Linked DNA regions of Homo sapiens. The protein of the gene in region 2 interacts with the protein of the main gene of each other region in a pairwise test. Each region holds a gene or a part of one and is shown on either strand. Other genes may lie near its edges.

Region 1 (2,504 bases), on a different chromosome or scaffold from region 2:
AGTGCTAGGATTACAGGCATGAGCCACTGCACCCAGCCTCCCCCAAATATTTTCTATCTGTGGTTAGTTGACTCCACGGATGCAGAGCCTGAGGATACGGAGGGCGACTATACTTGTTCCTAAACCCTGTTCCAGGTCTGCTCTGGGGACTTCACCCTAAGACAGTGGGTGACTCTCTCCCATCCTATCTTTCACAGCCAGGCCACTGAGTCAGTCTCTGGGGTGAAAGGATCAGGGAAGCATGAGCTCAAATCCCAGCTCCACACTAGCCATGATCTGCTGGTGAGGGCATCACTTAACCTACTCTGGCCTGAGTTTCTCCATCCAACAGACACTTATGACATCACCCACCGCCCTCTAGGAGCTGCTGCTATGATTAAACGGCGTATTTAATAGGAGTCCTCGGCACATACTTCAATATTAGCATCCACCCTTTCTCTACAACTTCGCCCTGCCAAGTGCACACACACACTCCCTAGAGAGACAGCTGGAGGCTGGGCCAGGAGGGTATAGATCCTTTATTTCCTGCACCACACGCACACAGGCTGACAAGCAATAGGAGATTGAGAGGTGCTGTGTGAAGGGGGGCAGGTACCTGCAGGAGGCCTCAGTCCCAGCCCCCAGCTATTGAGGAACAAAGGTGTGGGAAAGGGCAGAACATGGAAGAGGAAGCCAGGGGCAGGGAGGGGGGGATCAAGACAGAGGGGAGAGGGGCTGGGCCACGGATGGGAGCCTGGACACCCCCAGGCCACTGGCAGAAGAGGGAGGGAGGGAGAGGAGACACACCACTGGGCAGAGGGGCCCTCACCCACCCACACACAGAGACACTTGTGGTTACAAACAGTAGGTAGGGACTGAGAAGAAAGGATGAAGAACAGGGAAGACAGCCAGGTCCCTCAAGTCAACAAGAACCAGGGTGGCTACCATTAGCATGGGCATCAAGGGGTGAGGGGCACATTGTTGGGAAGGCGCTCACAACTCCCTGCCGGTGGAAGCTGGGCCCTGTTCCCTGCTCAGGGCTGAGTCTGGTAGCCAGTGGGCCTCTCCCGGGCTTCTCCTGCCCCCTGGGCTGCCATGTGGCCCAGACCTGGCAGCCACAGCTTTTGCACCAGCTGCAGAGCGAGGGCCGGGGTTCCTACCGCCTGTCCCTGAAGACGTTGGAAAAGCCTCCAACATGTGGGAAAGGGCAGAACATGGAAGAGGAAGCCAGGGGCAGGGAGGGGTCCCCAAGCTCCAGCCCAGGTTCATGAACACAGAGGGTGGGCTGGTGACAGACACAGGGTCCCATTTCAGAGGATGGGAAGGAGGGTCTGCGGGTGTGGGGCTTGGCCAGGCAGCAGAAGGAGGGGCCTCAAGCTGTCTGTGGGGCCTCTGCAGGCTGCTGGGGAACAGCAAAGCCTGGAAGAGAAGCAGGTGGATGTGAACTGGGGCATTGATGACCACAGGCCTGGCCTGGGCGGTGGGCAGGGGTCTGATCAACTGTATCAGAAGGACACGGAAAGTCGCCATTGATAATTATGCAGGTTGCCCCCTGCATGCGCCATAAAGGTCATGGTTCAGTTTATAACCTGCACAAGCTTACATGACACGCCTGCTGAAGCCAGTGCTATTCCACCCGGCAGTGACCAAAGGGCCATGAGAATGGGGACAGGCTGGGACGGGTACCAGGACAGCACTAGAGGGGAGGGATGGGCCAGTGAAGGTGCTACAGCACAGGAGTAGAGAGGACGGGCTCAGATCTACCCCGGCTGTGTGGCCCCAAACAAGTGTCCTTAGCTCTCTGAGCCTCACCCTCCTCACCTAACCAATGGGGACACATCACCTGCCACGGAATGAGGCTGATGGGAGCTGATGCACGTGCAATGGCTGCTGTGCATGAGTGTCACAAGGTCATCTTTCATGTCCTGCGGCTCCTTAAAGAGGCAGGGCTCACATGGCCTGCACTCGGAAGGTGCAGCTCCCAGACTTTGGGGTTTCTGGCTGGGGAGAGGAGACCCTGTTCCACCCCACAACCCTGCAGGAGGCCCTAGCCCACCTTCTGACACCCAGGGGACTGTTCCAACTGTGGCCCTTGCTGGTGAAGGCCTTTGTCCCCATAGCCTGGGCAGTCCCAGAAGGCCTCTCTTCCTCCCAGGCCGTGGGAGGGTGGCTGGCCCTGTCCTCCAGCCTGGGTCAGCCCCCGGGCTGCTCCACCATCCCACCCACCGCCCCCCGTGTTTGTTTTGACTGCTGCTGCCACTGCTGCAGAGTTGGAGAGCCTGGGGGATAGAGGAGGCAGGGGTTGGGGGCAGGGGAAGCAAGCGGGCAGAGATGGGAAGCTGAGGCGCAGTGTGGGGGCACAGTCCCAGCCCTAACCCCCAGCCCAGCCCCCAGGAGAAAAGTGGATGGAGATCTGGAATCCTAAGCAAATGCCACATAAATGAGCACTGACACTACGGTTCCCACTGAAGGGGATCAGAGGTGTCTATGCAAATGATATGCAAAGTCCATGCAAATAAGCACAG
Region 2 (5,681 bases):
TCATTTGAAAGTGTGCCTCAAACATAAAAGGATAATTATTACCATACGGCCATTGATTTCTCCTGGTTCTGTTGGGTAGAATCACACAGAAATAGTTTAAATAAGCACAAGCTATTCAATATCTGAAGTTAAGATACTACTTCCTAAGTTCTTCACAATTCTGGGTTAAAAATATTTTCTTCAAAAATGTTATCATGGCTAGTTTTGAGTTTCCCCACTATCTCTGGTCATTTTCCCCACTGTGTGTGTGTTCTTCCTGTAGGACAGCACTCAAGAATGAAGTCAATATTCTCACAGTGATGTTGATTCTAATATAAACTTTATTTTTACCACATGTTATTGACCATGACATAGTGTTACTGTTTTTAATTTTCAAAATTCCTTAGAATTTTAACATAAAATGCAGCCATATCTGCATTTTATGCGCATATGTAAATCACTATTACCCAATGATCATTTACTTACTGAGATGTTTTCTTCAGACCTGACAAGTTTTTTCTTCAGTTTTTTCTTTTCACGCATTAGATCACTGTGGGTCTTAAGCAATTCTTCAAAGCGAACTTTGGTTTTTACTTTTGCTTCACTCTCAGCTACAAAAGATACAGCCATGTGATTTTGTAAATGACTCTATCATAACACACAACCTACACTACTAGGATGTTAAGAAATAAGTTCTTGTAAATATCGGCATGAGTTCTCTAGCTACATTAGAAAAACTCACCTATCTTTCCTTCTTAAAATATTTTTTATTTTGACTTTAGTGACACAACATTCACCTGTATCCCTCTGACCTTTTTGGCCACTCACTCTAAAAGTCTCCTTTGCTAAGTTAACTTTTTATTTCTGATAAACAGTAGCATCTACCACTGTTAGTTACGTGTTATGTGGCTTTAGACAAGTTACTCAAGATCTCTAAACTTCATTTTCCTTATCTGTAAAATCACAATTATCTTATGCCAAAGATCATTTTGCATGAAAAATGGCTAAGGTGTGCCTAGCCTGTAATCAGTATTCCACAAATATTAACAGGTTTTTCCTTTAAAACATGAAGAAGATAATGCTTAAGCCCCTGAAAATTTCCCAATACATTTAGGATAAAATAAGTCTTTTATATGCCCTACAGGGCTCCATACCTCCTGATCTATCTCCAGGGCTTCAAATCAAGACAAATATCCCCTTAGATGCCTATGTTCTAGCTATAATACCCTTCCTTTAGCTCCTCCGTCACAGCAAGCTCCTTCCCACATGAAGCTGTTTCTGAGGCAAGCTTCCTCTAATTCCTCACCTGGCTGGTGTTAACCTGTCTGTTTAAATGCTGCCTGTAAATAAAACACCTCCTGACAAACTCATCTAATTTTCCCTTTTCTCACATAGCAGGTTGTTCTCTTCCTTCACAGCACTCAACCCAAATGGAAATTATATAATTATTTTTATATCTATATAAAGAAACATATTTTCTGTTTCCCCCATAACTACATCCCCAGCTACTATTATGAGGTCTGACATAGTGTACATAGTCATTATGTTTTAAATTAATAAATGCTGAATGAATGGGTGCTCTAGAGCAAGTGTCGGCAAACTATGGCCTGCAGGCTAGTCACTTGTTTTTGTAAAGATTTATTGAAATCAGACATACCCATTTGATTAAGAATTGTTATAACTGCTTTCATGCTTTAAAAGAGACAGAGAGACAGAGTTGAGCAGTTATAGCAGAGACTAAGCCTAAAATATTTACTAGCTAGCCCTTTTAGAAAAGATTGCCAATGCTTGTGGTGGAGTAAAACATTCAATTTTGATGATAAAGAATAAAAACTAACCCTATGTTGTAATCATTATTTACCTTGTCCATCTGAGTCCCAAACTACCATCCATTAAATACATACTAACCTTAATCACAATATTAAATAGAAAACTGAATACAAAACCAATAAGTATCTCTAAATGTAGTATATTTGGTCAATGACATCTACTGTATTCATTAATCTGTTCAAGAATCCCTTAAAATAAACCAAACTTAAAAGTAAATGTATAAAATATAAATTTTATACATAAATTTCATAGAAGTCTTACCTGTAGGCATCTCTCAGCTTTATGCAGAGGACTGAGAATGCAAAGCATTGACTCAATCAGGATCCTATCGAAACAAAGGAGATGTATTTGTAATATGGAACTTCCAAATAAAAATTATAAAACGTTCTTCACACAAGATCATGCCATTGTATGTCCACTACTTCATTAAGTTTATACCAATAAAGCTATGTTCCCTTAACCCAATCTTATGCAAATGACTTGGGTACATTTGAATCAGTTTAGGGCTCTAAAATCAAGGGAAACAAACTAGATCATATCTGAATAAAGTATTTATATATTTGAAACAAAAAAAACATTTTGAAGGCAGTGCACATCTAATGTGGTATGTTAATAAACTTTTTAAAGTGTTTTAATACATTAATGAACATTTCAACGCACTTTTAAGAAACCAAACTCCATCTCAGGATTGACTTTCCTAAGAGCATTCAATATTACATTAAAGCATGCTTGTGGGTAGCACACTCACAGTGAATTTAAATACCTCTGTGTCTGCCACTGAAAATTCTGCTACAATAGAGAAGGATAGTACAAATATTTGCACCATCTTTCTTTAATAAAACCTGGATGTGTATTACTGTGTCAGAACTACTCAAAACCATGGTTCAACTCAGTATGTATATTACTAAATTGCCCATTTTATTAAAAAAATCGGTGTATGTCTAAAATGAACATATTCTCACATTAGAACATTTAGAATGTAATATGCATGTTTTTGAGACTAAAACTGAAGAGTGTTAAAAAAAAAGCTGGTTCAGGAATTATTGATTTGTTTGTTTTTGAGATGGAGTCTCCCTTTGTCGAGTGCAGTGGTGTGATCTCGGCTCACTGCAACCTCCGCCTCCCAGGTTCAAGCGATTCTCCTGCCTCAGCCTCCCGAGTGGCTGGGATTACAGGTGTGCGCCACCACACCCAGCTAATTTTTGTATTTTTAGTAGAGACAGGGTTTCATCATGTTGGCCAGGCTGGTCTTGAACTCCTGACCTCATATGATCTGCCCGACTCAGCCTCCCAAAGTGTTGGGATTACAGGCGTGAGCCACCACACTGGGCCCAAGGCATTATTGGTTAATGCTCCAATTCCCTGGACATCCACATTCATGTTCCTCTTGCAGAAATGTCTAAGAAATTCTAAAAAGAAAGGAATGATTATGTAAACATACCTAACTATGTCAGTTAACTTAGGCAACAACTACGTGGCACCCAGTCAAAACAGACATCACTAAATCCATGGAGTAAAAATTCCTATACTTTAGTGATAGGAGCCTGTATTTACTCCTTCTAGCAGTTATAAATTTAATAAATCTAGTCTTCTACTTTCTAGTCTATATTAAATTAGAAAAGAGAAGCTGCAAAGGCAAGTGCAATGACAGCATGAGTAATTGAAACCTGAGAGCACGGAAGTAGAAAAATCATAAAACAAATAAAAATTTAATATTTATACTACTCGATGGTCATCTAATAGGCCAGGAAAAAGCTGACCTATATTATGACTATGATTCATCAAAAAAAAGCCTGCTGGGCGCCGTGGCTCATGTCTGTAATCCCAATACTTGGGAAGGATAAGGCGGGTGGATCACTTGAGGTCAGGAGTTTGTGTCCTGTCTGGCCAACATGGTAAAACCCCATCTCTACCAAAAATACAAAACTTAGTCAGGCGTGGTGGTGGGTGCCTGTAATCCCAGCTACTGGGGAGGCTGAGGCAGGAAAATCGCTTGAACCTGAAATGTGGAGGTTGCAGGGAGCCAAGACTGCACCAGTGCGCTCCAGGTGATGGAGTGAGGTAATATTTTAGAAAGATTAAATAACTAATGAAGAGGCAGGAGAAAGAATCGGAGATAATTCCCATGTTTCTAGAACTAGAATAAGTAGATTAGTAGTATCATTACACTGTAATATAATGCAGTACAGGGCAGTAGTTTAAAATCCATGTCCTAGAATTAGTTTCCATAGTCACTTGCGTGACTTTTGTTTCCTCATCTATAAAAACACCCTACCAGTGCCGACTCAAAGGGTTGTTGTAAGGGTTAAATGATTTAGAACAGTACCGTAGACAGAAGAAGCAACAATAAATGTTAGCTATAACTGTAACAGGTTGTTAGGGTGCAGTCACTGAGCTTAGTATGGGTCATGTTGAGTTGGGTATCTGAAGGGCACTGAGCAGCTACAAGCATCAGCTCCATTTTCAGATCCTTGGATCCAAATACCAGTTCTATCTGCCAGCAGATTCACCTCTATGGATATCAACTTCCTAATCTTTCACAATAATAAGAGTAAATCACTCACAGTGTTTTTATAAAGATTAAATGAGAATATGCAAATAAAATACTAGGCACAATGCCTAGCACATGGCAAGCCCTTCAAAAACAACAACTGTTATTACTGTCACGTGTGTGTGTGTTTACGTATATAATCATATTATGTTTGTTAGGCAATCTACTAATCCAGCAGGGAGACAATAGGCTGAAGATTTGGGAGTTATTTATAAATATGATAGTTCCAAGAAAATAAAAAGCCAATGAGAATCCTGTGAGCCTACAATATAAAGTAAAATCAGGGAGATAGGTGAAAAACTGGGAGATAGAAGCATTACAGAAGCAAACCCAAGTTTTAAAGGAGATGTTGCCTATATACTGTGTGGCATCAAAAGGGGCTGGAGGTTTTGAAGAAAGTCCACTGAATCTGCAAGTAGGAAGTCACGTGTGTCAAAGCTGTTTATAGAGGGGCAGAAACTTAGCAGGCTGGGGCTAAGGAATGAATGGAAGGTGACACCTGTAGAAGGGACATGTAGACAATTCTTTACAGAATTCTTCCAACTGTCTTCCCATCACCCCCAAAGGCAGTGACATGAGACAGTAACTCTGAGGGACAAAAACACTGTGGAAGGATTATGCTTTTTGTTTTAAGATTGTTTCCACGCCGCTATCACCTTTCCCTTAAAAAAAAAATCATCATCTACACAGCAACTAGTGTAATTTTCTAAAATTCAAATGTGATGGTGTCGTTTCTTCGCTTAAAATTCTTCACTAGCTCCCAATCGCACATTGAAAAAAATATCAAGTCCTTACCAGTGAGGTCCAAGGCCATTTATGAAATGTCCCCTTCACACATCCACTGTGTTCCAGACATGTGAAACTACCTGCAGGCCTTCACGTGTGCCAAGTTCTCTCTTGCTTTTGTATCATTACACACATATCCCCTCCCCTGAAAAATGTGCTTCCTCCTTTGTCTCTCTAACAAACTCCTCACTATCCTTTAAAGGCAAATGATATCTTCTCTAGAGAGCATTCTCACCTTGAAGGGCATTTAAGAACTTCTCTTCTGTGCTTCCAGGGTGCCTTAATCTTTGTAGCTCCCTCTACCTCAACCTTGAATTTTCACCCTGGTAAAATGTTCTGTAACTCCCACCAAACTGCTAGCTTTGGAGGACCAAGCCAATGCTCTCTTATAGTTATGTATCTGCCACTATGAAAGAAAAGAGAGGAGAAGAAGAGAGAAGCGAAGTGAAGAGAAGCAAAAGCAAAGCGAGTAAAAAAGACTCAGGCTTGAGCTCTAGTGTCACCACTTACTGATGTGTGGCCTTGGGCAAGCTAC

What was found. Proteins that work in one complex are often made in the same cells at the same time.
Region 1: the proteins of AHI1 (region 2) and HAP1 interact in binary tests that used the Homo sapiens proteins (3 or more experiments, as listed by UniProt).

The regions. Positions count from the first base shown.
Region 1 is NC_000017.11:41,722,140-41,724,643, forward strand, and holds the end of HAP1 (huntingtin-associated protein 1), read right to left. Parts: 3' UTR 501-2,504; downstream 1-500. UniProt on the Homo sapiens protein: Originally identified as neuronal protein that specifically associates with HTT/huntingtin and the binding is enhanced by an expanded polyglutamine repeat within HTT possibly affecting HAP1 interaction properties.
Region 2 is NC_000006.12:135,490,158-135,495,838, forward strand, and holds part of AHI1 (jouberin), read right to left. Parts: 5' UTR 5,657-5,681; intron 5,553-5,656; exon of another isoform or gene 5,382-5,552; intron 2,135-5,381; 5' UTR 2,081-2,134; coding exon 2,071-2,080; intron 591-2,070; coding exon 466-590; intron 1-465. UniProt on the Homo sapiens protein: Involved in vesicle trafficking and required for ciliogenesis, formation of primary non-motile cilium, and recruitment of RAB8A to the basal body of primary cilium.